7 linked regions of the Homo sapiens genome follow. The protein of the gene in region 1 interacts with the protein of each later gene in a pairwise test. Each region holds a gene or a part of one and is shown on either strand. Other genes may lie near its edges.

What was found.
Region 2: the proteins of WWOX (region 1) and SMR3A interact in binary tests that used the Homo sapiens proteins (3 or more experiments, as listed by UniProt).
Region 3: the proteins of WWOX (region 1) and GCM2 interact in binary tests that used the Homo sapiens proteins (3 or more experiments, as listed by UniProt).
Region 4: the proteins of WWOX (region 1) and CREB5 interact in binary tests that used the Homo sapiens proteins (3 or more experiments, as listed by UniProt).
Region 5: the proteins of WWOX (region 1) and MYOZ2 interact in binary tests that used the Homo sapiens proteins (3 or more experiments, as listed by UniProt).
Region 6: the proteins of WWOX (region 1) and PBX4 interact in binary tests that used the Homo sapiens proteins (3 or more experiments, as listed by UniProt).
Region 7: the proteins of WWOX (region 1) and NDUFV2 interact in binary tests that used the Homo sapiens proteins (3 or more experiments, as listed by UniProt).

Annotation. Positions count from the first base shown.
Region 1 is NC_000016.10:78,112,686-78,117,123, forward strand, and holds part of WWOX (WW domain-containing oxidoreductase), read left to right. Parts: intron 1-2,290; coding exon 2,291-2,469; intron 2,470-4,438. UniProt on the Homo sapiens protein: Putative oxidoreductase. Acts as a tumor suppressor and plays a role in apoptosis. Required for normal bone development. May function synergistically with p53/TP53 to control genotoxic stress-induced cell death.
Region 2 is NC_000004.12:70,363,329-70,368,165, forward strand, and holds the end of SMR3A (submaxillary gland androgen-regulated protein 3A precursor), read left to right. Parts: intron 1-3,315; coding exon 3,316-3,666; 3' UTR 3,667-3,830; downstream 3,831-4,837. UniProt on the Homo sapiens protein: May play a role in protection or detoxification.
Region 3 is NC_000006.12:10,871,785-10,875,882, reverse strand, and holds the end of GCM2 (chorion-specific transcription factor GCMb), read left to right. Parts: intron 1-949; coding exon 950-1,888; 3' UTR 1,889-2,660; downstream 2,661-4,098. UniProt on the Homo sapiens protein: Transcription factor that binds specific sequences on gene promoters and activate their transcription. Through the regulation of gene transcription, may play a role in parathyroid gland development.
Region 4 is NC_000007.14:28,414,855-28,419,292, forward strand, and holds part of CREB5 (cyclic AMP-responsive element-binding protein 5), read left to right. Parts: intron 1-4,438. UniProt on the Homo sapiens protein: Binds to the cAMP response element and activates transcription.
Region 5 is NC_000004.12:119,159,152-119,163,589, reverse strand, and holds part of MYOZ2 (myozenin-2), read right to left. Parts: intron 1-4,438.
Region 6 is NC_000019.10:19,560,729-19,564,404, forward strand, and holds the end of PBX4 (pre-B-cell leukemia transcription factor 4), read right to left. Parts: intron 2,888-3,676; coding exon 2,781-2,887; intron 1,390-2,780; coding exon 1,297-1,389; 3' UTR 985-1,296; downstream 1-984.
Region 7 is NC_000018.10:9,105,327-9,109,764, forward strand, and holds part of NDUFV2 (NADH dehydrogenase [ubiquinone] flavoprotein 2, mitochondrial precursor), read left to right. Parts: intron 1-4,438.

The sequences.
Region 1 (4,438 bases):
TTTTCCAAGTTTTCTTTCTTTTTTTTTTTTTATACTGGGTCTTGCTCTTCTTATCCAGGGCTGAGGTGCAGTGACACAGTCACAGCTCGCTGCAGCCTCAACCTCCTGGACTCAAGTGATCCTCCTGCCTCAGCCTTCTGAGGAGCTGGGACTACAGGCTCATGCTGCCATGCCCAGCTAATTTTTAAAGACTTTTTTTTTGTAGAGACTGAGGCTCAGTATGTTGCCCAGGCTGGTCTTGAACTTCTGGCCTTCAGCGATCCTCCTGCCTTGACTTCCCAAAGCATTCATATTACAGGCATGAGCGACCACACCTGACTGAATTTCTTAAATTTTTTATGTAGTCAAATCAATTTTCTCCTGTGCAGTCTTTGCCTTTGCATTCACGCTTGGAAAGTTACTCCCTGAAATGGGTATTAATCAACCAAGAGCAGCAGTTCTCAGGCATGGTTCCTGGACCAGCAGCATTAATATCACCTGGGAATTCAATAAAAATGTACATTCCCAGGCCCCCACCCCAGACCTACTGAATCAGCACTGGGGTGGGGCTTGCAATCTGCGCTCTAATAGTCATCCAGGGGATCCTGATGTTCCCTAGCTTGAGAGCCTCCCGTCTAGAGCAGGGGCTGTCTCCTTTGCCTGTAAAGGGCTAGATAATATGTTTTAGGATTTGCAGGGCATATGGTTTCTGTTGCAATGATTCAACTCTGCCTTTGTAGTGCTAAAGCAGCTATACACAATATACAAGTGATGGGCGTTGTTGTGTTCCAATAAAACTTTATTTACAGAAACAGGCAGTGGGCCAGATTTGGCCAGCTCCTGGTCTAATCTAGAGGAGTAAGCAAGGGCTTTGGGGGGAACCTGGAAATTGGCTCCCCTGGCTAGTTCTCACTTTTCTGAGCCTGTTGCAGTGGGGTGCTGGTAAATGTTTAGCACCAGGTCTTCAGGGGGAAAAAAGCCACTGTTTGTTTCCACAGTATAAATACTTTGGCCATAGCTGATTTCATGCTGCCAAGGTGAAGTGAGGAATTGGGAAGAGATAGTCACGTTTGGCTCTTGTAAGCCAGTTTGAGCCAGTCTAGCATAGAACTGCTCTGTTGTGTGTGTATAATATTGGGGTCACAAATTAAGGTTGTTATAAATAGAATGAGGATGAGGATGGTAATAATTAGAATAAAGGTTGGATTATTACTCTTGAGTCTTGGTACTTATAGGGAGATGAGTATATATTTTAAACTAATTTTACACACACATACTTTTAAAATATGAAATTTCATCTATATTTAGAGGCTTCTTAATAGTTTTTAAGATATTCTGAGGTCTTTATCTCATATCCCAAGAATACATTTAAGATATAAAAAGTAAATTCTATTATAAGGAGTACTCTTTTCATCCATATGTGCCTTTTTTTTTTTTTTTTTTTTAATGGTTACCCAGGGTCTTGGTCTGTCACCCAGGCTAGAGTGCAGTGGCACAATCATGGCTCACTGCAGCTTTGATCTCTTAGGCTCACGTGATCATCCTCCTACCTCAGCCTCCCAAGTAGCTGCGACTACAGGCGTGTGCTATCACACTTGAAATTTTGTTTAGTGTTTGTAGAGATGAGGTCTAACTATGTTGCCCAGGCTGGTCTTGAACTCCTGGGCTCAAGTGGTCCTCTTGCCTTGGCCTCCCAAATTGCCGAGATTACAGGCGTGAGCCACTGTGCCCAGCCTCCAGTATATTTTAATACCATTTCTACAAGATTTAGATCAATTCCAAATCAAAATGAGTGCTCGTAGGAGGTATGAGTGCAGAGTCTTAAAATGAAAATCGTTAGAATTTTGGTAGTTGGCAGGTTTCTTATTTACAACTAAGACTTTATCATTTTGAGTTTTCTACTTCTCTACGTCTTTAGGCCCTTGCACAGGGCTAAGAGATTTAATTGAAATCTACTGAAAAGAGTGGCTGACAGATCTTATAGCTACATTTACATGAATTACATAAAAGCCCAAAACCTTCTCAAGAAGCCTTTTTTGAGATCTAAGGATACATGGCAATAGTTATTGTATGTTACAGCGTATGTTATAGGCAGTTCTGAAGGAAAGGATTCGATGACTATCTTTTTTTGGCACAAATGTGATCCTTCTGGAGGCCAGAAGATAGATTCAGTGGGCCCCAGTTCTTTCAGGTTTAAGGAATAAGCATTTTGGTCTATGAAAAATGGGGTTTTCCTAAAGTATAAGATTGTCTTATATTTATAAATGCCTGTGTTCATTGCTGTGGGTTCACTGCTTTCTCTTTTGGGCAGCCATATAAATAAAAGAACCACCTACTTGGACCCAAGACTGGCGTTTACTGTGGATGATAATCCGACCAAGCCAACCACCCGGCAAAGATACGACGGCAGCACCACTGCCATGGAAATTCTCCAGGGCCGGGATTTCACTGGCAAAGTGGTTGTGGTCACTGGAGCTAATTCAGGAATAGGTAGGCTCTTCACTTAGTTATTTATCTTTGGGACTGCTATAATGAGATCCACTTAGATCTAGCTATAATGGAATTTTGTTTAGTGGTTCTCTGATTTAAACATGACTTTTATCCTTTTCAGATATCGTTTCATTAACATCACTACCTCTTTTTAAATCCTAATGTTGTCATGGAAGCCTGTGTAGGGGCTGACCTTGAAGTCTCTGAAAGCTGAACACTCAGCAAAAGACTGTGGCTATTTTGGTATTCAGGGATGAGAGACAACAGGCTCCGTCTAAGAGTTTTTGACCTGGTCTGCATGGTGTATGGGCATATTCCAATTACCTGGGTTATTCAAACCAAAATTGATTGGTAATAGAATACGGGGAACAACAAGGTATTATGTCTTTGGAACAAAGGATACTACAGGTTTCGACTGGTCACTGAGCATATCATTTTCTTTTGGGCACAGGATCTTATTTCTCTATAAAATTGGAGAATGAGTTCCTGTCTTCACCTCTTAATTGCCAATGTTTACCCACAGGGACTATCATGGGTAGATGGCTCAAGAGGGTATCCTTGCTTCAATATGATGGGCCATTAAGGAGACAGGAGCAAGGCGGGAGCAAACCATAACTCTTCATAGGATTTTATTCTGATTTTGCTTTGATCTATTTACATAAGTATCTGAATCAGTGAGAACCACCTGCTTTGAGTTTAGATATGCATCTTCAGATTTGTCGACATATGAAACGTTGCATTTGGCTGTCTTCTGTCAAGTTCTCTCTGTCCTTTTGGTCCCCCGCAGCCCTCACACGGCCCCCTTGATGCCCTCCTCTACTCATTTGTTTCTCTTTCCTAATTTTGTTTTTATTTTTATTTTTTGTGGGTATATAAAGGTGTCTATATTTATGGGGTTCATGAGATGTTTTGATACAGGGATGCAATGTGAAATAGTCACATCATGGAGAATGGGGTATCCATCCCCTCAAGAATTTATCCTTTGAGTGATAAACAATTCAGTTATACCCTTTTAGATATTTTACAATGTGCAATTAAGTTATTATTAACTATAATCAACTTGTTGTGCTATCAAATAGTAGGTCTTATTCTTTCTTTCTATCTTTTTTGTACCCATTAACCATCTGCACTTCTTTCTTAATTTTGAACAATTCCTTGAAGCTGCAGAAATATTTTCTAGCATGATTAGGGAGGCACAGGAGGTAAAAATACATTGTTCAAGGGTCAATTATTGTGTTGTACAAGGTGTGAAATCTACCAGGTTGCCATCCGAGTGGAGAATTTTTTTACTGTACTTGCCTATGAAGGTAAAGAAGCAAATGGAAATTTTTTTTTAAGAATTGAAAGGATTTTATTTCAAATCAACTCTCATACCTCATCCTGGGCTCCAAATATGTTCAATCCACTTGTCTGAACTTCTGCATTGGAGTAAATTTTATATAATTGTCATTGAAGTCAAAACTGATGGCGTAATATTTAAAACAATGGCTGGATCCCCAATCTAAGAAGAATACATTTTGTTGATCATATTAAGTACTGTTACAGTGAATGCATGGACCCATACAATTGTGGAATAATTAAGAAAAAAGGACTTAAGGGCTTAAAAATGTCTTTTTAACAATTTAACAAGTTAGCCAGAAACTTTAAAGATCTTATTCTCTTAATCTTCTAGCTAGACTCTTTTTCTGTAATGAGTAAGATATGTGACTACTGATTGTTTTTTGTGTTAAGTGTTCGAACTGCTCCATGTGACATTAGATAGCAGACTCTTGAATAGAGCTAATGCTCTTTCAAAGATTTGCAACAGCAGACCTGCGACATTGTAATCCAGGACTGATAGAGTTGGTTCAGAATATTAAAAGGGTGATATCTAGTTAGATACATAAGTCTTGATGGAGAGGAGGAGATTCTGAAGCATTGAGAATAAATTTGTGGTTGCTGAGAATGGCCCTCACATGTTGGAGTAAAG
Region 2 (4,837 bases), on another chromosome or scaffold:
GAAGGGTAGCATGTCCTTTGCATATACATATTTGTAGATGGGGTAAGTCATCATATTCAGCCTGTTACCTTTTGAGTGTTTTCTCTGTTATAGGTAATTTTCCAAATGCATTACATACATTATCTCTTCTTTAATCCTCAAAGCAAGTCTCACTATTTTTAATCTCACTAAAATACAAATAAATTTAGATTCAAATTATGCATGTCTTAGCTGGATTATTGCTAAATTGAATAATGTAGGAGATTAACATTAATTATAGCCCTTTGAGAGGGGAGTGTTTCTTCCTAATATAGTATTTTCATCATTTTCATCATTTTACTTTAGCCAGTTGTGGAAAGGGAGCTTATCACTGCGATTGGGTTAAGAGAACAGGAAAAGAATAGATATTTACTATGAAGATTTTTCATTACATAATATTTAGATCAACATCGGTATATCTTTAGGAAAAGGTACTTTCAGCTAATTTTTTAATTGTCTCAACAATAAAAATGTGTGAAATATTTTTCCATACTAAGGATTTGTTTTCTTGACAATAAAAAATCAAATCCTGAACTTCCACATAACCTGACTAGTCCTTGGATTGGCAGCCCTTGGGTCAAACACCCTGCATAACAACTTGAACCATCACTAGCTAGAGAAGACAAATGCAAGGCTGGTCCCACAGAAGTGCCTTGGAATTTTTTGTTTGTTTCATTGGTGATATGAATAAAACTTTTACCGGCATGTTAAGGGCAAAAGCCAGGTTGAAGAGCAAATGGGAAGTGAGAAGTGGGGTTGGCAAATTTAGAATACTCTTTCATAGAGCTTTGCTTTGCAGGAAAGAGGTGAAAAGGAGGTCACAACAACAAGGGTATTGGTGGTTGAAACTGAATCTTTTATAAACAGGGAAATATCAATTTATATTTATTTCCCAAATGATGTCTTCGACCTCTCTGTACGTGTTAGGTGAAAGCGGCAAGATTAGAATCAAGAGGTCAAATCAACGGGCCCTACAGTAATTTGGGTAAAAGTAAATGACAGATGAGAATGAAAGCAAGAAAGATGATAAGAAGTGGTTAGATTTAGAATTCAGGGAGTGGGATGAAGAGCTGATAGGATAGGGAGAAAAAAAATTGAGTTGAACATAAATGATAGTGTTTTTCTGAAGAAAATGAGCTAATTAAATGGCAGATATTACTTGCAGAAAGTAAAAGAGAAGACTGACAGAGCCAGGTCCCTCAGAAAACAATTATAAAGAAAAAGAAACTGTCTAGCTATCAATGACTCCATGGTTGTGTGGCCAGTAAATCAGGGAAGTTCGTTTCTAATTGCCTGAAATATCTTGGTGAAGCAGGAGAAAAGCCAGTTTGGTGGGGGTAGATGAGAGCTCAGGATGAAGTGGAGAATGTTTATAAAATTGGCATCAACTTGGAAAATTACAGGCCTCTGGGGAAGTGGGAAGAGATAATCTAAGGTAAGATACTCAAAAAAGGATTTCAGGCAGCACTGAAGGACGCTAACTTTCTGATGGTACAGTGCTTGTGACATCCTCTAGCATTGTTAAGAACCTGGAACTAGGAATCCAGGAGAAAGATGGTTTACCGTAATACTAAAGTTTAGGATTAGCAAGGGTAATGGCCAGACAAATAGGTGAAGGGACTGAGAACCACAAGAAGTGAATGTAGTTTTGTGCCCTATATAAACCATCTGCTCCAAGCAACCTGGAGTTCTTGCCGTCAGTAGAGTGGAACTTCATTCTTACCCCAGAGCATTTGCATATTTTCCTTCTATTTGGCATGCTCCCTCCTTATTTTGTATTCTTTAAGCCTCTTTTCAATAACTCCTTATCACAGAGACAATCCTTTATCATTTTCCTATCCAGAACTGATCTCTTTAAATCCCTAATGTATTTGTTCCTTGCACTACTTTTCAGCTATTTTTAGATTTTTAATGGAGATGGGGTCTTATTATGTTGTCCAGGTTGGTCTTGAACTGCTGGCCTAAAGCTATCTACCTACCTCAGCCTCCCAAAGTGCTGGGATTACAGGCATGAGCCACCATATCCAGCCTCAGCTATTTTCATTTCTAAAAATTGTACTCTATGTAAACCAGACCTGAGATAAGCACCACCCTAGGCACTTTACAGGTGATATTTCACAATAGATGTGACAACAACCGCAGGAGATGGGTACTTTTATGAACATCATTTTCCTGATAAGAAAAAGAGACTCAAAAAGGATTCTATACTCACCCTATCTCTATGTGCCAGAAGGAGAGCTCAAACACTGGCATGAAATCCCAGACACTCATTCCATTCATTTCACTTCCCTTTAGATCACATTTATCCCCCCCTGTATTGTAATTACTCAGCCTGTGGATTCATAGAAGACATGTTTGTACCCCTGGCAAACTGCCAGGTTGACATTCATGACATGAATGAACCAGCTCCTTCATTAGCTCATTGCACAAAATAGTTGCTCACATGTGTTTCACAATTAATTAATGTTCAAAGCCCAGAACAACCCTGAACTCTTGAATTAGACATAAAAAGACGTGTCTTTCCCATGCTGCAAAGGCATTTATTTCCATTTAGAATTTGGAATGACAGACTTCACTACAGGCCAAGGATAAGATTTTTGCTCATTATCTATTTTTTCCAGTCAATACTATCCAAGCTTTCATTGAGAGCCTAGGTATTCAGAGGGCAAAAGAGAAACATTTTTCTTTGATACAGAAGTTCATACATCATAACTTAGATACATTTAACAATTTTCTATTGCTCAATAACAAATTACCACTAATTAGTAGCCTTTAAAAACTCATTATTATCTCAGTTTCTTTGGCCATAACTCTGAGCTTGGCTTAGGTGGCTTCTCTGCTCAGAGTCTCACAGGCTGAAAAGGTGTGTCCATTGCTGTATTTTTTTTTTCTGCACCTCAGTGTCCTTTTTTAAGCTTGCATGGTTGTTGGCAGGATTCAGTCCCTTGGTTGTTGGACTGAAGCCCCTATTTTTTTTGCTGCCTATGAGCCAGGGGCCACTCTCAGCTCCTATAGCCAGTCTACCATGTACTTCCACATGGCCCTCGCCACAACACGGCATCTTGATTCAAAGCCCAGAGGAAAGCATTTGCTGCAGCTTCAAATCTCTCTGATTCCTTCTCACATTGTAGAACCTGTTTTAAAAGGGCTCACCTGATAAGGTCAGGCCAGCATGTGCCAGCAGGGAGTAGAAATCTTGAGGCCATCTCAGAGTTCTGCTTACCATAGAAACCATTCACCCTTATATTTAACTGTGAAATATCTGATTTAAAATTATTTACTTCTTTGTTTCCACAGCCTGGTGAGAGTCAAAGAGGCCCCAGGGGACCATATCCACCTGGACCACTGGCTCCTCCTCCTCCACCATGTTTTCCTTTTGGAACAGGATTTGTTCCACCACCCCATCCTCCACCCTATGGTCCAGGGAGATTTCCACCACCCCTTTCTCCACCCTATGGTCCAGGGAGAATCCCACCATCCCCTCCTCCACCCTATGGTCCAGGGAGAATTCAATCACACTCTCTTCCTCCTCCTTATGGCCCAGGTTATCCACAGCCACCTTCCCAACCAAGACCCTATCCACCTGGACCTCCATTTTTCCCTGTAAATTCTCCAACTGATCCTGCCCTCCCTACTCCTGCACCCTAAATACAGACAACTGCAACAGGTGCCACCACCCACAAAAGACAACACTACCCTCGTAACTACTGCTTCTACTACCCAAAAATAAGAATTTCAACACTACTTCCAAGAGACTTTTAGATAAAATCACTTCCATTTTTGGATGAGAATAAAGATTTCCAAAGCACTGAGCTTTTGGGAGAAATATCTTAGAAATTGTGAAACGATCCCCATGAACCTTTATATCAGTAGGGGAAAATAAAGAATTGAGCAACAATATGAAGTATCCACTGTTATCAGAGCCAATAGTTTACACCCCAGTTATGTCACCTAAATGAATATTAGTGCTAACAGAGCCTGGCCTTGTCCCATGAAGCCAAAAAAGTAAATTAAGGAAAAATGCAATGAGACACTTGGACTTGAACCTTAGAGTTACAAAGTTAGAAGAGTAGGCAACAAGATGCCCTCTTCAGTATGGCAACCCATCATACAATTACAAAGCCCAAAATAAGTGTTAATAGATACTAAAATGAAAGAATCTTAGCCCTTACCATAGCTTGCCCCATAAAAATTCCTGAGTACCATCTGATCACTGCTTATAAATAGTTGCAGAGAAGAAACACCATTCTAACAAACCTAAATATCTGAGATGTGAATCACAAGTCTTAGAGTTTGATATGAAAAAATCATTTTCTAAGCTAAGATAGAGATAGGAAATGGTTTCAGATAGCAATAAGAAGAAGCTGATGGCTGAGATTTCCAAGTTTCTACTGCATCTATTTGTTGATGTTTGAATCAGAAGTATTATGATACGACTATTTAGGAAATGGCCTCATGATGTCATGAGAGCTTTATCTTTCCATTCCATGTTTGACTTTTTTCTTCAGGACACTTAACTTTCCACATTGCCATCAAACACTTATAAATTAAAACTTCTTAAGACACCTAAAGTAAGCACACAATTTTTATTTGTGTTTAATGCTCTCCTTTTTTTTTTCTTTCCATGGAAAGGGTCTCACTCCCATCACCTAGGCTGAAGTACAATGACGCAATCACAACTCACTGTAGCCATGAATTCCTGAGCTCAGGAAATTCCACCTCAGCTTCCTAACTGGGATTACAGGTGCATGCCACCACTCCTGGCTAATTCTGTTGTATTTTTAGCAGAGATGGGGTTTTGCTATGTTGCCTAGGCTTC
Region 3 (4,098 bases), on another chromosome or scaffold:
GAGCTGATAGTGCACAGTGGTCTCAGCTCATTTTCATCCCAAGATACGCTGATCGTTATGCAAAATATGAAGGTCATACGTTAATTACAAGGGTTTGATTTCATCTGAAAATTATACGTCTGTAACAAAATATCATTAAATCAACATTTGGACAGGGTTTCTAATCCCTTCTCCTTAAAACAAAAAGCAACAATCTCTACAGGCAATGATACAGTCCTGATATGTCAGTGTGCTGAGCTGACATCCTAATATAAGGGCGATTATGCAACAGTAATAAAGATAGAAATATGTGCCTACCAACAGGAAGTTAACAGTGCACCCTTGAGAGGGTCCTTTCCATTATTTCATCCACAAGAATGGATAAAATTTCTCTGCGCAATTTAATTCAGTTTGGCTTTTCAACCAAAGCACGCCAAGCAGGCAGAGTGTTAGTGTAAGGATAACAGAAGCTGACATTTTCCAGCACTTCCTATGTGCCAGGCACTGGTCTAAGAGTTTCACACATTTAATGGTTGCAGAAACCTTATAATGAGGTTACTGTTATTAAGTTCCATTTTTAAGATGAAGGATCTGAGGCTCAGAGAGGTTAAGTGGCTTGTACAATTTGTGAGGGACAGAGTCAGGAATTGAACCCAGGCCCGTGTGGCTCCTAAGTCTCCACTATTAGGAAGACAGTATAGGTGAGAACAGGACCATCTGCCACTCAGAAGCATCCTACCTGGCTACCATGGACCTTTGTCATTCAGTCGTTGGTATTTATGTCTGAGTGAGCCCAAGCTTAGCAACCCCTGGACCACGTGCTTACATCACGTACCTGAGCAGTGCCATGTTCACAACACAGAGCCCAGCACATGGATGTCTGTTTTTACTTACTTCTAGGCTATTGTTACAGGTGAGGGTGTCCACACGATTTACATAGCGTGTGTCTATGTTTGTATCATTTTTCTAGGCAGAAGAAAATCAAGACAGCAGTGGTCATTTCAGCAACATACCTCCCTTGGAAAATCCAGAAGACTTTGATATAGTTACTGAAACCAGCTTCCCTATTCCAGGGCAGCCTTGCCCTTCCTTCCCAAAGTCTGATGTTTACAAAGCTACCTGTGACCTAGCCACCTTTCAAGGAGACAAAATGCCACCCTTCCAGAAATACTCAAGCCCAAGAATCTATTTGCCTAGGCCACCTTGCAGCTATGAATTGGCAAACCCTGGTTATACAAATTCAAGCCCATATCCCACCCTTTATAAGGATTCCACCAGTATCCCTAATGACACAGACTGGGTTCATCTGAACACACTACAATGTAATGTCAATTCATACAGCAGCTATGAGAGAAGCTTTGATTTCACCAACAAACAGCATGGCTGGAAACCAGCTCTTGGAAAACCCAGCCTTGTGGAAAGGACTAACCATGGGCAGTTTCAGGCCATGGCCACTCGCCCTTATTATAACCCAGAGCTTCCCTGCAGGTACCTCACGACTCCACCACCAGGTGCCCCTGCCCTACAAACCGTGATCACCACCACCACTAAAGTGTCCTACCAGGCCTACCAGCCCCCTGCTATGAAATACAGTGACAGTGTGCGAGAGGTGAAGAGCCTTTCGAGCTGTAACTATGCTCCTGAAGATACTGGGATGTCTGTCTATCCAGAACCCTGGGGTCCTCCGGTGACAGTCACCAGGGCAGCCTCTCCTTCAGGGCCACCTCCTATGAAAATTGCAGGAGATTGCCGGGCCATCAGACCCACTGTGGCTATTCCCCACGAGCCAGTTTCCTCTAGGACAGATGAAGCAGAGACTTGGGATGTGTGTCTGTCTGGGCTGGGCTCCGCAGTCAGTTACTCAGACAGAGTGGGTCCCTTCTTTACCTACAACAATGAGGATTTTTGAAAGACAATCCAGGGGACATAATAGCAGTGTGCATGCAGGCAGGAGGCAGGGAAATGTGAAATGGCAATGATCTCTTATTGAGTTGGGAGATTCACCTTGTGTGCAAAGAAACACAGATAGTAGTAAAAATTCTGAGTAACTGAGAAAATAATCAGTTGGAAATGATTAGATAATATGGGAAATTTCACACAGCATTTTGAAACTGGCTACAATACATAGAAGTAGTGAGGAAAGTGTGAGTCTCTCAAATGAACAAATAAGCAAACTGTAGGAGGTTAAATACTGACCTAAGTTCACTTAGCTTATTAGCAGGAGTAGAAGTCAAGGATTCTGGTTCTTATTCTAGGACTTTTCCCATTAGAGCACCTTAGGGAATTTCACATCCCTAGAGGCTGCCAAAATAGCTTCAGGAAGAAATTTTTACAATCTTATCACCTGAGTCATTTCATGAAATTTTTGTTTAGCATTTAGAACCTGTTAAACTAGCTTCAGGAAGTAATTTTGATTGTTTTATCTCCAACGTGTGTATCTACAGCTTTTCAAAAAATCTCTAGCAATGGTAAAGTTCAGTTGTTTTTAAAAGATTCAATATTAGCTTTTCATAACATGATAGTTTCCTAACCTTTTCATAACCTTTTCATAACATGATAGTTTCCATAACAGAGACAGCCTAACAATGATGAGTTGTATTTAATGGATTACCATTGTACTAAATACATTTTTTTTCTGATTAGGTTTCAGAATTATAATTAAAATGTTTTGCTGAAATACAGCTTTACGGTTCCTCTGTTATTCTTCATAAAGGTAATTGATAATGTTCAATTAAATGTAATAAGGACATTTTAAATGAAGCTAATTCTTGCCTGACTTCAAAACAGAAATAGGAAAAAAATTGTTCATATTATGACCTGGGAAACAGTTGTTATGAAACATTAAAACTTATTAAATTGGCTGAGAGAGGTGGCTCACGCCTGTAATCCCAACACTTTGGGAGACCAAGGCAGGAGGATTGCTTGAGCCCAGGAGTTTGAGACCAGCCTGGGCAACAGGGAGAGCCCTCATCTCTGGGCAACAGAGAGAGACCCCAGGGCATGGCAGTGGGCCTGTGGTTCTAACTACTTGGGAAGCTGAGGTGGGAGGATCATTTGAACCCACGAGGTCAAGGCTGCAGTCAGCCATCTTTGTGCTACTGCACTCCAGCTTGGGCAACAGAGCAAGACCCTGTCTCAAAAAAATAAATAAATAAATAAATAAATAAAACAAGTATTAAATAGTTTGACTGTTTTGTAGTTTATTTGCAAAATACCTGCTGTTGTACTCTGTCATAACAGAAAGCCTTTTCAAAACATTTGGAGTGTTCACACACACACTTTAGTGAAAATATTCTGTTTTCAAATAAAGATAAACTACAGGAGCAATATATTTTGGGGGGGGGTGCCTAGAAGTATCATCCTCAAATTTGCATAGAATAATCAATTTGTATAACTAAATTGTAGTCAGTCAGATGCCATTTTAAATCATTGAGCATTCTGTATCATCCAACTAATTCATAAAAGCCTAATACTCCAACATCATAAATGCATGCAGTACTTAACAAAAGATTGAGTAGGTATGAGTACACTCCTATGAGTTTCTAACCAACCAATTTTTTTTAAAGGGAAAGATGCTTAGTACACTCATTGGTTACTTTTTCCTTTGAACTTCCATTGCCAAAACTCACAAGCTATAATAATATCTAACATTTATATAGCACTTACTGGCCAAACATGGTGGCTCACACCTGTAATCCTAGCACTTTGGGAGGCTGAGGCAGGTGGATCACTTGAGCCCAGGAATTAGAGACCAGCTTGGGCAACATGGCAAAACCCCATCTCTACCAAAAAAAAATACAAAAATTAGCCGGGTGTGATTGCACACAGCTGTAGTCCCAGCTACTCAGAAGATTGAGGTGGGAGGATGGCTTGAGCCCAGGAGGTAGAGGTTGCAGTGAGCTGAGATAGCACCACTGCACTCCAGCCTGGGCAACAGAGCTAGACCCTGTCTCAAAAAATAAAGAACATTTTTTTTTAAAAAAAAGAAAAAAAATTAAATATATATATATATATATATATATATATATATATATATATCAGTATTTACCATGTGTCAGACATTGTAAGCCCTGAACATACATTAATTGATTTAATCCTCACAGCTGTCCCCTGAGCTAC
Region 4 (4,438 bases), on another chromosome or scaffold:
CCACTAAAATTTTTGAAGCTCTTATTGAGGACTCTGGGACTGTCACAGTAAAAGATAAAGTTTAGGATAAATTCTTGAACCCATAAAAGATATTATATTGACATTTCAATATTTCTTTTTTCCAAGTTCACTGTATTGCCTTCCCCCTCACCCCCTGAGAAATAGATCAGAATCAGTTTATCACTTTAAAAATATGTATTTCAGCTGCTTTCTTCTATTTCCTTAAGGTTACATTTCTGATCTTAACCCTAAAAAGATTTTAGGATTTCAATCCTTAACAAGGATTGAAAACTACCAGGCTGGCGTTTGACTAGAACTGATTTTAGAGGGAGTTCTTTTAGGCCTAGAGATTCTGATGGTGAGTTACAAAGGCTTATGGCTTTACACGGATGGTAGGGCTAGGGGAGGGCCTCGGATTGATAGACCAATTTTTCATTTTACAGAAGAGACCCCTGGCTCACCCAAGGCCCAGAGCTAGAGAGAGCCAAACCAGGCTGAGAAGCCTGGTCCCTGCCTCCAGGTCGGGTGCTCCTGCCATAAATGCCCTTGTCAGGAATGGGGCATAACCTATGACTTTGTATCCTTCACTCTTTTCAAGCCTTTTGATGACTAATCTTTCAAAGACAAATTTTTATCAGATCTTTGGAATGAACACCTTAATCATAAAAACTGTAGTTTCTATTTCATTCATTCTTATATAATATCTGCAATGTTATTTTTTCTAATAAGGGCCTCCTTAATTAATTTTAACTTAAATTCTCCTTTTTTCATCATTGTTATGAGACATACCCTGTAAAACCACACCATCCAGATTTCATTTGAGAGTAAAAACCAGGCAGGACTAAAAATGGTCTGAAAGACTGTCTCAAGAACAAGGCAGTGACTTTCTCTACTACCTGTCTTTTCTCTATTATCTGTGAGGACGGGATCTGAAATATTATTTAAAGTTAAAATAAATAACCTTTTTTGTCAAATAGAGAAACGGGTGATGTTTTCACTCTAGAAGGTGTACCTTTGCCTAGGATCTGTCTGTAATACATTATCTTTCCAGATGGATATATATGAGTGTGTTTGGAGGTGACGAGAAGTGAATTGAGTCTGGAAGTATGTTCTTTGAGGTTTGACTGGCAAAACTTGACCAATCATAACCAAAAAAATTCATGCATGCAACACAGAGGGCTCTAGAGCACCACACATTTGATTTAAGATGATATTTAGTCTGTGCTGTATTTAAGATGGGGAATAACAATGTCTAAATAGAAATCCTGAATGCACCTACTGCATGTGTTGTTTGGCCTCACCCACAGGTTTCCTCTCCAGCTGTTTGCATGCGATTTTATATCAGAATTCAGGTCTCTTTTTATTCTTTTATTACACTGAGGAGCTCCTGTGTTGCAGGCATGATTTCTCCAATAGAACACATTTCAGCCAGTTTTATGCAGTCCTCTCTCTGTTGGCTTCCTAAGGGGGAAAAATACATGCAACAACAACAACAACAAAATTTTTGTTTTTGTTTGAATTAGCTGACTATTAGAAGAAATACATGTAATCTCTATTTGCCAGATCTGGTAGGACCATTTCACTTTATCAAAACAAGATCTTCTCCTTTAAGTAAGTTGGCTTCTGACTGGCCAGGTATTAATTCATGCATCAGACAGTAGAAGGCATTGGGATAAAGTCCGTTTCCACCAGGGTATCTAGCTATGGTGTGGTGCACCATCATGAAGGGTCTGATTTGCCTCACTGCAATGACAACATTGTGCAGAAAAACACTGACTCCTAGGAGGAGAAACAATATTATAGGCTCAAGCTTCTAAAATCATATCAGGGAATGATCCTGTGTCGAAGGTGACTGTCAGAACGCTGGGGGCCTCCAGGGTCATTTTCTAAACTACAGCATGACAAAATGTTCTCTTTGTCTATTCTCTGCATTTTCCTTCAGGTAGTGTTTCCCTAGATTCATTCTTTAACATCCATTTCAACTACTCTGCCTTGATGAATAATCCTGCAGTAACAAGTCACAAATGTGTACACAGCAGAGCAGAGATATTTTTCCATAAGGAAAATAGATTTTTATATCAAATCTTAGAAGAAACAATTAGCAAAACAAAAGGGGGGAAGAAGAGTTGAAATTAGATTGATGGCATAACAAGCTCTGTCCATTCGTGGCTCTGCAACAATGAGCAGCCTGAGACTGGAGGAGGGACGCAATTCCCAGAGAGCTGCCTTGAGCTTATTGTGCTTCTCTGCCTCAGTTTCTTCATTTGTGATGAGAATGTCGGGCTCACCCAGCACTGTCCGGTAGTGAGAGCTGCAAATGTGAGCTGCACATTTCATTTTAAACGTTTTAGTAGCCACATTAAAAAGGTTAAAAAGAAACAGGTGAAGTCATTTTAATAACACTTTGATTTAACCTGATATATCCAAAATATTATCATTTAAACATATAATCCATATAAAAATGTTAATGTACTACTTTACATTCTCTCTTTCTCTCTCTTTTTTTTTTTTTGGTACTAAATCTTTGAAATCCAGTGTGTATTTCACAACTACAACATATCTCAATTTGGACTAGCCACATTTCAAGTGCTCAATATCCACGTGTGGTCGGTGACTATGGTATCAGACAACACAGGGTAAATCAGTGGTTTATGATCCTGGCAGCCCAGTAGTACCACCTGTGGAACTTATTAAAAAACACTGATACCCTTCCACTCTGACATTCTGATTTAATTGGTTTGGGGTGAAGGCCTGAGCCTCTGTATATTTTAAAAGCTCCACAAGTGTTTCCAATGTGTAGCAGAGGTTGAGAACCACGGTTCTAACTGATCTCTAAGGAATCTTCTACTCTAATATTCTATGATTCTATTTCAGGAAAGGGATTGCAGTAAAGCGTTCATTCAGAGTTCAAGGGCAGCAAGCAGTTGTTACAAGCATGCTGCACCCTGCAACACATATTTAAGAAAATATAACTGATAAAGATTAAAATTTACAGAATGAATAACTTAGACAATAATTCTTTGCACCACAAATGGGCTCTGTTTTGTGTAACTTTCAAACGTGGGTGTTTTAAATGGTCTGCTTCACTAGAAATCTTAATTTAGGATTTGATTTACATGTAACCTCGTAGAAACCCTCTGTTTCGGAAAAGGTCAGGATTCTCACATTTCAGTTACAGTATTTTGCCAGCTTACTCTTTTGCCCCAGATACTTGCCTTTAGTTGTTTGGGGAGGGAAATTTTTACTCCAGTTGAGACATCTGGATCCCCCAGAATTTTCTTCCTTCCAAGCTTTTAACAAACTTGTGTTATTGCCTAGACCAGATTTTCTCATGTCAAGATGTTAGTTATAACCTCCTAGACTTAAGGTATTCATTTTTATTTGTCACCTTTTAAAATATTAGAAGAATCAATGTTTTTCAATGCACATCAGAATGCTTTATTTTAATATACCTGTTTTTTATAATACACCAGTCTGTGCATTCACTAAAGGATGCAAAAAGTATAAAATAAAAAATAATTTCCAAACTCCTCACGCACCTTCTTGTGAAGTCTACAGACAGAATTGTTTGTGGAGGGGAGGAGAGACCTTGGTGTCAGCCTCTTGTGACTTCATGCTGCAGAGAGCCTCTGCATCCCCAAATTCATGAGTCATTTCACTCTGACCCTCTCTCTCCTTATCCCCTGCAGAGCCATCTATGTCCAAATACATGTCTATTCAACCATATCGCCTTTAAAGCATGACTATAAACTAGTTTTAAATATAAAATTACATGTTTTTCTACATTTTGTGGTGATATTTGTGTTTTCTGTAATGTCATTCATTGGAAGAATGTTAGCTTTCATTTATTAACACATATCTCTAATCCCCATTTTATAGATGGGAAAACTAAGAGATTGCCAAGGCTAGGCATCCTGCTCATTGATTAGATGGGTGGTCGGTATGAGAAAAGAGCTCACATTTATTAGTGCCATGTATTCCAGATATTCCAGATAGAAGCACTGCTTTGGGTTGCTTCCAGGTAGGGATTTTCCAATTGCTTGTACTATTGCGCTTGTCTTTGTATTTATAAATAACATTCTTTCGGGTGCTTTCCCATGCATTATTTGCAGTTAAATGGTTTCCTTGCTAATACCTCTTACTTTCCAGCTTCAGGCTACATGTAGCTGGATTGATTAGTAAATACATAAGGATATATTAACTTCTTAACATGGAATCTGTTTTAAAAGTTGCATGGAGACATCTGTTGCAAACCTGTGTGTTTGGTAGTATCCAGGGAAACTTTCTCTCAGGCTACTTTGTGATTGACTGTTAAAAGTATTGTGTGGAGAGACAATGAGATTAATGATGTAAGTTACTCATCTGTTTTGGGGATTGAAGGCAAAGGTCTGTACAGATTCATTTGTTGAGCAAGATAGACTCTAGCCCTACCTCCTAA
Region 5 (4,438 bases), on another chromosome or scaffold:
TTTTCTGCTTCTGATCTCACCTCCCCAGTTTATTCTTCCCATAACAGCTGGGAATTTTCTGTAAATACTGTTTAAAAGTCACGGAAATTCTTGGCATAGATCTTTAAACCTTTTTCACATGCATAGAGTGACACTCTTCCAGTTTTCTAAGGCACAGTTATCTACTTTCTGTTTACACTGCCATATTACCTAGTTATATCCCTGCAATTCTCTCTTCCACCATGTCAAATCCCTTTACCACTTGATGACTTCTACTTTTAGATTTCTCTGATGCTCTTTCCCATCTCTGCAATAATTTTGATTTTCTTCTGTCAAAGCATGCCTATCTCCTCTTTACACTAAAATGTTTGTCTCCTCCAAAAAAAAAGCCCCTTCCTGATAATTCCATGTCTAAACAGTTATTTGTGATTATTTAATTTTCTTCAGATTGCCTCCAGTATCTAATACAAATCTTTTTGTGTAGGCTCCTTTTCTCTGCTTACCACTTAAATACTGTTGTTCCTCAAAGCTCTTTTCTTACACAATGCACTCTACCTAGAAAATTCCATTTATATTCATAGCTTCAATTGTGACCTATGTATTGATAATTCTGACTTTTTAAAAAAATAATCAAGCCCTCTACTGAATTATTTACTATATTTATCAAAATAAATGATCCACTGGCACCCTTTATAACCTGTCTAGACCTAAATGTAGCCATTTTCTAATATATTCTGCTTCTTTTTCTATTTTGGTCATTTTAGCAAATGTTATCACTTTACTCTCAGATGCCCAAGACAGAGCATTATCCGAAAGTCTCCCTCATCCCCACAACAAATCACAAAGTGTTACCAACTATACTACCTAAGGATTTCTAAAATAGTGGCTCTCATATTATTGTTTGTCTGAATTATCTTGGATACGTATTTAAAATGTAGATAATAGGATCCTCCCTCCAGGAGTCTGGCTTCAGTGAGTCTCAGGTATTACCTAAAACTCCAATGTTTAACAAACTCTCATACAAATCTTATGCAGGTGGTCTACAAACAGAACAACGAGGAACACTGCTCTAAAAAATTCTCTTTACATTTCCGTTACTCCTGCCCTGGGTCAGGTCCAGGTGTCTCTTGCCTGGGTGTTTGCCACAGCTTCAACACTAATCCTTTAGCTCTAACCCTCTCCCAGCCAGCCTCCACACTGCTGCCCCAGGAGACCTTCCTAACTGGCCAGCTCTTCCCCTGCTCAGGGGACCCTAATGCCTCCCAGGACAAAATCGCAACCACTCAGCATGACCCATGTGGCCCTTAAGCCCGTCCAGCCTCACCGCCTGCTTTCTCCTTTCACACTCTTTGCTCCAGGACTATGGATCTAGTTACTTGCTGCTTGGGGTGCCCCTTATGCCCCTCTACTTGGTCCATTCATTTCCTGTGCCTGGACTGTTCTCCCTACTTCTTGTCATGTGCGAATTTCTACTGTAAGCCTTGGCTTCAGGTCACCCTTCTATGCAGCCATTCCTACCTCCCCGAGGAAAGAGTTCTCTTTCCTGTGTCTTGTCTTTGTATATTATACGTAATTCTATAACCATAACTACCACATTTTATTTCCTATTCCTTTCCTGGAGTTGAACAGAGGTAAGACCTTTAAAAACTGGACAATTTTAAGTTTTATAAAATTTGTTTAAAATTCCTCAAAATCTCACCACCCTAACACAAGTATTTAGTTTTGTGTATTTTCTTCCAGTTTTTCTTCACCCATAAACGTAATGATCACATAACTAGAACATCTAGTGTAATATTATGTTTTTCCCCCAAATTTGTTTAAAATACTTTTAAATGTTTCTGTATCATGTTCATAATTATTTTAAGGGTTTCACAATAATCTATTAAATTAAGGAACCATGGTTATGTAATCTTTTCCCATTTTTGAACATTCAAGGTTTTCTAATTTCTTTTTATAGATATCATTAAATAACAACTTTTTTCTTTTTTGATAATGCTGAGTTATCTACAGAAAAGAATGTGCTTATATTTAACCTCACAGAAATATTACAATTCAGCAATGCAATATGTCTACATTTCTTGTTTGATTTTTAAATATGTTTTAATATAACTGAAATTTAGATAAATTTTATTTTTACAGTATTATGGCATTTTCATACTCTTATTTATTCATGTATGAAAAAAGTTGGCTTTTTGATACATAGTTGGCTAATCACTATAACAAATTAATTTGCTAAATTGGAATAATTATAGTTTGTTTACTGAGCTTATTGTACTTTTCAACTTATCTACTCAGAAGGAAGAATCCATTTGTACTCTTGCCTCATAGTAAAGTACATAATAATACCCCAACTCCCCATTTTCTTACTCTATATTGCATAGACATTTTCTAATATTTAATAACTGGATACTAGCTCTAAATAGGTACATAAATTAGTGCTTTAAAAATTTCTCTTAAGTTAAACATTGCATGTCCTCATTCATATGTGGAAGCTAAAAAAGGTTGATCTCCTAGGCGTGAAAAGTAGGACAGAGGATACTAGAGGCTGGGAACAGTAGAGAGAAGTGGGGACAAGAGAGATTTGTTAAAGAATGCAAAATTATAGCTAGACAGGAGGAATAAGTTATAGTCTTCTATAACACTGTAGGGTGTTATAAGAATAATACAGTTATTTATATATAAATTTATATACAAATAAGAATAATATATAGTTCAGATAGCTAGAAGGAGGATATTGAATACTTCCAACACAAAGAAATAATAAATATTTGAGATGATGGATATGTATCAAAACATCACTATGTACCCCAAGAATATGTACAATTATTACACGTCAATTTAAACGATATTAATTAGGGCTATAACAGTTGCGTTGGAGGTACATCTTTGAGGTTCCGTTAAATGAGAAAATTAAGATACAGAAAAGTGTGTTGAATATACCATTTAATAAAGCATGCAGTTTTCCCCCCACAAAGTCTCTCTCTGAATATATATAAACATACATATACAACCACACACATATTTACTCCTGATGGTCAATAAAATGCACATATGATGTTGAATTATATACACAGAAAGTGAAAATATAGATATTCTTTGGACATCTGCTCTATCTCTCTATGTCTATTAATTCTTTGAAGATAGAGATTAATTCTTCTATTCATTTTGTGATTCCATAGTGTACAGTAAAGACTACATAATAAAAGTTCTAAGTGAATGACAGCACTAAATTGTATCAACATTCACTTTTCCATATGTCCTCTCTCTTTCCTATTTAATAAAAAAAAAAAAACTCCAAAAAGTAAGCAGGGATTGTAGTACAGTGGTTGGAGCTCAGATAGTATCTGTGTATTCTATTGCATAAGAAGGATGTAAAGGTGGATGGGGAAAGAATTAACTTTAACTGAGTGCTTATTATATGTTAGGGACTATTCGCATACCATCACACTTACTTTGCACAGTGACCCTGTAAAGCGAGATTTCTTTCTCTATTTTACAGATTGAGGAAACTAGGGCCCAAAGAGATGTATTTTCTTTCCCAGCATGGTAGTAAAATGGGAAGAGCCATAGGGTTGAACCCAGATCTGTCTGATTCTAAACCTTATTTCTTTTCTCATGTGGTTGATGATGTAGATACAGACCCTATTACCTGCTTTTCTGCCATAACTTTTGTTGAAAGCTACCAGAGAACTTCATTAAAATAATCCATTTCAGAATTGTATGCATTTTAATTGTGCCTAATTGGTTTCCTTCGGTATTATTTTGCTAAGTCTATCCACAGTTTTTCTCATCGTGCTCATTAAGAATGCTCTAATACCTTATTTTTAAATAATATTTAATGTTGTACAGGTGCTGTACCTGTATAACATTATCTCAAAATATTTACATATTTTCAAAAATAGTATTACATTTGAGAAGAATGCTAGGAGTACTTTTGCTAAATTTACTGTTTATTTTACAAAAATTAGACATATATCTTTAGTTTCAAGATATAACTATTTTAAATTTTTGAAATCTATACACTACTCTTGAGGAAATGCTTGAATTTTCAAAGACACTATAGGTTACTTTGAAAAGTTGTCTAATTAGATAATGTAATTTTTTGAAAGATGTCCTATTTTAATGCCCAACATTATTTATAAAGACTATAAACTGACTGAATAAGGAGTTGATTCTCTTTTAAAATGATAAACAAATGTATACTCTTTAGGAGCTGCATTGAAAGTCCTTTGAGGGAACAGAGAAAACAAAAACAATCTCCATAAGGTCTGTTGACATGAGGCAGTTGTAAATTTGGTACCAGATCTGGGCTTAATTCTTTTTTGTTTTATTTATTTATTTTTTGTAGAGATAGGGTCTTGTTATGTTGCCCAGGCTGGTCTCGAGCTCCTGGCCTAAAGTGATCCTCAGCCTCCCAAAATGCTGGTATTATAGCTGTGAGCCACTGTGCCTGGCCCTA
Region 6 (3,676 bases), on another chromosome or scaffold:
CCTGGGAGGTGGAGGTTGCAATGAGCCGAGATGGCGCTATTGCACTCCAGCCTGCGCGACAAGAGCAAAACTCTGTCTCAAAAACAAAACAAAACAAAACAAAACAAAAAAACAGCAAAAGAGCAAATAGAGCAAAACCCGAAAAAAGTGCAAAACTAATTCCCAGTAAAATTGAGCTCCGAACATAAAATAAATATATATAATTGAGACAGGGTCTCACTCTGTCACCCAGGCTGGAGTGCAGTGGCGTGATCTCAGCTCACTGCAGCCTTAACATCCCGAGCTCAGGTGATTCTCCCTCCTCAGCCTGTTGAGTAGCTGGGACTACAGGCATGCGCCACCATGCTCAGCTAATTAAAAAAATTTTGGGGTGGGGGGCGGTCGGGCACGGTGGCTCAAGCCTATAATCCCAGCACTTTGGGAGGCTGAGGCGGGCAGATCACTTGAGCTCAGGAGTTCAAGACCAGCCTGGCTAACATTGTGAAACCCCATCTCTACCAAAAATACAAAAAATTAGCTGGGCATAGCGGCAGGCACCTGTAATCCCAGCTACTTGGGAGGCTAAGGCGGAAGAATCGCTTGAACCTGGGAGGCAGAGGTTGTGGTGAGCCGAGATCACACCACTGCACTCCAGCATGGGTGACAGAGCGAGAATCTGTCCCCCAAAAAAAAAAAAAATCTGAAAGCAGAATTTTTTTGTAGAGACGAGGTCTCACTATGTTGCCCAGACGGGTCTCAAACTCCTAGGCTCAAGCAATCCTCCTACCTCGACCTCTCAATGTGCTGGGATTACAGGCATGAGCCACTGCTCCCAGCCAGGACATTTTAAAATCAGAACAGAATGATACGGTCCCACAGAAGACAGTGTTGGGAGTCTGTGCCTGAGCGGCGCAGGTGAGTGGCAAAATCACAGCACACATGACACTGCAGCTGTGACCGGTGTCAACTACCACCCAAAACAAATCTGGCAAACAGACATCGGAATTAAAATAAGTCAAAAATTTTAATGGGAAAATCTGTGCCCAGTCCTAGAACAGACAATTCAATTCATAGCGTTACCATAAAATTACTGTCAAAAAAACGAACTGAAGTGGGAGAATGAGTGGCGTTTCAGGCCATCTCGAGTCGCAGCAGACACATGAGCCGGCGCCACGGGCCTGGCTGAGGAGCAGGGGCTCATGGGCACCACCACCCATCTGGGTTTTCTGAGGTCGTCGGCGGCACGTTCAGTAACAAAGCAACGGCTGGCGATACATGGCAGCTCACGCAGCGCTCTTTCCTGCTTATCCCCCAAACTTAATTAGATGTACTGGAGTTGATGCTGCCAGGGTCTCCAGCAGGTGAGGCAGTTGCAGGTTGGGGGGTGGCCCCCTGCCAGCTACCCTGGGCCTGAAACGACAGAGACTGAGCATCAGAGTGGGTGGCCGTGAGACTGGTGACTACCCAGCCCACGTGCTGCAGGCGGAGCCTCCAGGGGTCCCTGGGAAGGCTTGGAAAAGATCCACAGATGACCTCCAGCTCAGTGGAGGAGGGAAGGGATGGAGGGGTCGGTCCTGGGTCACAGCTGGCCTTGCCACCTGACATGGGACATGGACGAGCTTCCCCGGCAGGAAAACTGGCCTCTAGTGGCTTCCCTGGGGCTTAGGCAAAGGACTGACTGGCATCGGGTACAACAAGGGCTCCTGCCCGGCGAGGGGCAGGGAGGCAAGGTCAGGCCTGGAGCCCATGATGACGCCCGGAGCGTCATGGTGAGACTCGGTGGGAAAAAGGGGCTCTGAAACCTGGCCCAACACTGGCCTGGCTGGGCAGCAAGGAGGGTGGGAGGCAACCACTTGTCATAAGGGGTGGGGGCTCTGTCTGCAGTGCAGAGACGGCATCACGTCCAACGGCGCTAAGACGTTTGTCCACAGGACCCACCCCCACTATGGTGGGCACGGTACAGGTTAAGGAAGTGGCTGGGACTGCTCTGCCCGTGAGTGTGGGAGCAGCTCAGACGGGTGCACCACCTGGGGGCACTCTGCTCTGAACTGGGGTGGACACACAGCTGCTGGCGCGTAGTCAGGTCCCAGGGGTGCAAAGGGCAAGGTGAGGCCCCTCACGTGTGTCCCTGGCTGGGGGCTGCATGGTGATGGGGGGCAGCTGCCACAGCAGGACAGTGTGGGACGTGTGCTTCCCAGGACCAGGTGGGACCCCACAGACAGCACAGGAGGCATCCGTTCTCTGAACCCCTGGGAGAGAGTGGTGAGTTGGGAGGGGCACCCGGCTCTGCAGTGCCCTGGCACACACCACACACACAGCCTCGTGCCTGTGCTGGGCACATGACACCTGGGCCTCCTCAGTGTCTTCAAGACGGTCCCCACTCGCTGCCTTCCCAGCCAAGCTGCGGCACTGAGGTCTGAGCCCGAGGGAAGGCCCCATCTCTCCTCCGGCCTCCTCTGCTGGCTGCCTGCCCCTCCCTCTCGAGGGAAGGACACCATGTCCTCCCACAGTCCTCTAGGAGGTGCCCTTCCCCTCCACAGCCAAAGCCCTCATCTTGGGGTTCATCCCCACTGACTGTTCCCAGCGGCTGCCGTGGTGACAAGTGGAGGTGGGGGAGGGCACAGTCATTACAGAGTGGGGCCCTGCAGAGCTGTGCCCCAGAGGTGGCCGCGCAGCATGGCCTGTGTGGCTGCTGGGACCTCTGGGGAAGCTGCCCCAAGGCCGAGGGGTGGCTGACAAGACGACCCTTTCTGAGAACCTACCACCCACCTGGGCGCTGTGGGACAGTGCCTGAGACTCACCTGGGACTGCAGGCAGCCTCCCCCAGGAGGAGGCTGGAGAGAGGCCAGAGTCCGCAGGGTGAGGAAGGCGTCCCCAGCGCTGGGCAGCGGGAAGGGTCCAGAGGAGCCTGGAAGAGATGGGAGCCGGGGTGGGCAGAGTCGTGGCGCCTCCTCAGGTGGAACCCACCCAGCCCCTCAGCCGGCAGGAGGCCTCGAATGTGGCTCCTGCCCCTCCTCAGCATCCGGCCTCTGCTCCTCAGCCCCCACCCAGGCAGGCCAGCGGGCCCTCCCCACCACACTACTCATGTCCCCTCATGGCTTGTCTTTTTTTTTTCTTTTTAAGACAGTCTCGCTCTGTCACCCAGGCTTGAGTGCAGTGGCACGATCTTGGCTCACTGCAAGCTCTGCCTCCCAGGTTCACACCATTCTCCTGCCTCAGCCTCCCAAGTAGCTGGGACTACAGGCGCCCACCACCACGCCCAGATAATTTGTTTTTTCTTTCTTTTTTTTTATTATTATTATACTTTAAGTTTTAGGGTACATGTGCACAATGTGCAGGTTTGTTACGTATGTATACATGTGCCATGCTGGTGTGCTGCACCCACTAACTCGTCATCTAGCATTAGGTATATCTCCCAATGCTATCCCTCCCCCCTCCCCCCACCCCACAACAGTCCCCAGAGTGTGATATTCCCCTTCCTGTGTCCATGTGTTCTCATTGTTCAATTCCCACCTATGAGTGAGAATATGCGGTGTTTGGTTTTTTGTTCTTGCGATAGTTTACTGAGAATGATGATTTCCAGTTTCATCCATGTCCCTACAAAGGACATGAACTCATCATTTTTTATGGCTGCATAGTATTCCATGGTGTATATGTGCCACATTTTCTTAATCCAGTCTATCATTGTTGGACATTT
Region 7 (4,438 bases), on another chromosome or scaffold:
GGCTAGAATTAAGTATTAGTTTGTGTGATCTTGAGCCATCTTAATCTCTTTGAGCCTCATTTTTCTTTTCTGTAAACTGAGATAATACCTCATAGGTGATTGTAGTAATTGACTAAAAGTTATAAATTATGGAGTAATAGATAATCAGAATAAGTTTATTCCCTTCTTCAGTAATTGCCCATGGTTTTTCTGTAATGTTGATGCCACTTTAGAACTTATCACTGCCTCATTCCCAAGCTGCTATTGTAGTTTCGAAGGTGAGAGGGTTGTGGTGGCATTTTCAATTACAGATGCTCCTTTACTTACAATGAGATGACATCCTGATTAAACCCATTGTAAATTGAAAGTATGTAAATTTCAGTTTACAGTGGGGTTATCTGGACTTAATCGAGGAGCATGCTGAATACTTATCATTTTCATACAGTTGTAAAGTTGGGAATTTGCAAGACAGGCAATTGTAAGTCAGCGACCCATCTGTATTGTGTATTTTTTCATTCATCGAGGATATTTTCCTTTATGTCTTTAGGCATGATTATAGCTGTCCTGAAGTTTGTGTCTGGTAATCTTAGTTGATTTTTTTCTTGAAAATGTGTTTTCCTTTTTTGTTTGTTTCCCATATGTTGAACAATTTTGGATTGTATGCTGAATTTTGTGAATGATACGTTGTAGAGGCTCTAGATCCTGTTTTATTCCTCCAAATAGTGTGTTTTGTTGTTGCTATCCATATCCCTTGTGGGCAGCAGATCAAATATTGGTTCCGTTCTTTTAGCTAGGCTCCTTGGAGTCTGCAGCATGTACATGCATGGTTCAGGGTTCAGCCAGAGATTTCCGTAGAATTTATATACAGAATGTATAGGGCTCCCTCCCCCTTTCTGGCTCTTCCTTTTCTAGGATTTCCCACTTTACCATGTCTGTTGTTCCAAACTCTCACTGAGGCCTGCCTTCAGGCTAAAAGATGTGAAGAAAAAACAAAAACCTCATTGGTTTTTTATGAATGTAGACTCCCCTTCTGTGTCTGCCTGTTTGGTTGTTCCCCAGTGCCTTCAGAAAGCTTTTGTTTTTATAAAATATTTTGTCCAGAGTTTATAGTTATTATTCAGTGGTTTGCCCTGACAGTGTCTACTTAGCCATACTAGAAGTATGCCATCTTGTGTGGTGGTACTTTTCCTTCCAAATTTTAAGTTTTGTACAATGAAATGTTTTCCCCATTCCATTAGAGATTCTTAAACTTGATTTTGTAATGTCCCAGTGTATCTCCATTGTGACTCAAAGGACTCTAAAGAAGTTAATGTAGGAAAAACACCCCAAAACATTTAGTTTTTTATTCCTGCTGTAACAAATTTCCACAAAACTTTGTGGCATAAAACATTATATTTTTAACCTTACAGTTCTGTAGGTTAAAAGTGACACAGGTCTCAGTGGGCTAAAATTAAAGTGTAGCCCGAGCTTCATTCCTTTTTGGAGGCTCTAGAGGTGAATGTCTTTTCTTGGCTTTTCCAGCTTCTAGAGGCTGCTCTTGGCCCCTTCTTTCATCTCCAAAGCCAGCAAAGGCAAGTCTAGTTCTTATATCACATCACTTCGACCCTCCTGGCATTCATCACATATCCTTCCTTGCCTCTTGGTAAGAACCCTGTGATTGATGACATTGGGCCCACCTAGATAATCCAGGATAATCTCCCTATTTTAAGGTCGGCTGATTAGCAGCCTTAATTCTCTTTTGTTGTGTAAACTAATACTCACAGGTTTCCAGGATTAGGATGTGGTTATCTTTGAGAGACCATTATTCTGCCTGCCATAGCCATAAATTAGCAGTTTAAGGAGAGAGAGAATGAACAAACTTTAGTTTATGCAGTGAGGTTCAGTAGGCCACTATTGCAAACTGCAGACTCGGATCTTTTTATTAGAGACTTGAACTCAGTTTCCATTTCAAAGTAATAAAAAGTTGACTTTCCTTTCTCTTTGGGCACTGTTTAGTACCTTAGTGCTCAGAACATTGAGTAATAAATTACAGGTCTGTTGCCCATGCTGTATAACCTATTGAGTGACAGTCAGTCTGATTTTCCAATGAGGAACCTTGTCACTAGTTTTTGAATCAGTTCAGGAAGCATGTTATAAATCAGTTGTAGGAAATGTCTTTCATTACAAAACATCAAAGACAGTTTACACACATTTTGGTTAGGGGGAAGGTGGCTTTATCTGTCGGATATTTTGCTAGGTGTTACCCCATTTTATGTGTGAGATATATGAAGATTGCTGGACAAATAAATGCCCAAGATCACACAGTAGTAAGGGCTGGGTTTATTCGCAAGTCCTGTTTTGTTTTGTTTTTAATCTACCTTTCTGAAGTTGCTCAAACAATTGAAGTTGCTAAGGGAAATCACTATGTATGGTGAAGATTTAAATTTAATAGGCACTCTAATAATAAAAGGTGTACCAGTGTAAGCAGACTAGGGAAATGATTTCACTTTGCTTAGGGAAAAGAGATGGAGGTTTAGGGGCTTTAAAGGGGTAGGAGATGGAGGTTTAGGGGCTTTAAAGGGGTAAGAGGAGGAGGTTAACCTTGGTCATGATGGATGAGTGGAAGGTGTAAGTTGAGATAATGCTGTAGGTATAGCTAGCTACATATACAAAGACACTGAAGTGCATGAGGTGAGACTGAACCCCGGGTCCACTGGATGGGCATTTCATTTCTATAAATTATTCTTGTCCTTAGAACAATTGGTTGTTGCTTATATCCATGTGGGATTTTAGATATCTAAAGAATGTTTTCTTTAATATATGGTCAAGATGGCTGGAATCATTAATGCTGTTATCTTAATCTGTAATGCACAGTGCCTGTAATACCTGGGCTCTTCATGCAGCTTTTCTATAATATAAAATTTAGCCAAATTACATTTGTTAATTCTCTCATAGTATGGTAAAAATTACTTACATTTTAACCTGAATTAACATTTTTAGGTAAATTACTGATGGAACTTTATTTGGAGGATGTTTGTAAAAGTCCTCCTATTTCTATCTGAAAATACAGCAAAACTTAAATTTTAGTGGTTAAGGCATGTACTGAAGTCAGGAAAATCTGTATGTGGCATTTCATTTATTTAGCTGTGTGAGCTAGGGAAAGTTTTTCCCCCTTCTTTGAGCCTTAATTTTCTCACCTGTAAAACAAGATAATAATACCTACTTGGTAGGCTTGCTGAGAGGAATAAATGGATTATAGTGTAGATTTGTAGTTTATAGCATGAGATCTGACATAGAGTAAGCATTTGTATTTATGATTATCCTTGAAATAGATTTCACAATTATTAACCCAGCATCAACTTTGTTAAAATAAAATGCACTGAAAAACTTTTGTTTTTCATGGAATTTTTTTTTTTTTTTTTTTGAGACAGAGTCTTACTCTGTTGCCCAGGCTGGAGTTCAGTGGCGTGATTTTGGCTCACTGCAACCTCTGCCTCCCGGGTTCAAGCGATTCTCCTGCCTCAGCCTCCCAAGTAGCTGGGATTAAAGGTGCGTGCCACCACACCCGGCTAATTTTTGTACTTTTAGTAGAGATGGGGTTTCACCATGTTGGCTAGGCTGGTCTCAAACTCCTGACCTCCAGTGATCCACCTGCCTCGGCTCTCAAAGTGCTGGGATTACAGGCATGAGCCACTGCACCCAGCCTCAAGGATTTTTTTTAAATGTAAAATTACCTAGTCTGAATGAATGTATTGCAGACCCTGACTTTTTTAGGAGGTTTCAGTTTTCTTGCTTGAGCTGGCAATAGGGGAGGCTGTAGGTAACAAGTCAGCAGATGTTGTGAACAGTGAGAGGAAGGCACGGAGGGACCTCAGACCACTTTGGATTCACTAGAGATGTTTCATGTGTGCACTGTGACTCTTGCACAGGCAAATAGATATCTTGGTGGATTTAATCTGTAAATATTAGGGATCATCTAAAAGGTATATTCCTTGCCTTAGTTGGCCTCTAATAAAGGAAAAAAGAAGGGTTTTTGAATTGCCTGACCTTAGTCTTGTCTTTCTGACTAATTAGATTACTGCTTCTGTCAGTTTTGTCTTACAGCTTCTTAGTCTCTTATTAACTTCTCTTAGCTGGATGCATTTATAATGCAAATGTCTGATAGAACTGAAAAGTGAGCTTCGTTGGATGGTAGTATTGTTTGAACAACAGAAGAAATTCAGAAAAAGAGTAGAGCCCATGAAAAGACAATTAAGGAATCCTATTGGGGAGAATATAAAACTTTAATTTTTGTCATTTTGAGCTATTGGTATTGCCAGTGACAGTAAAAGGGAAAGGCTGGTAGAAAGAGCACAGGGCCCTTAGATTGAAAGAGCCTGGGCTCAAAATCCAGGTCTGTCACTAATTGTGCGGTATGGGGCAAGTTACTGTCTTTGAGCCTGAGTTTCTCTAAATGTAAAATGGAAATAATGACTCACTA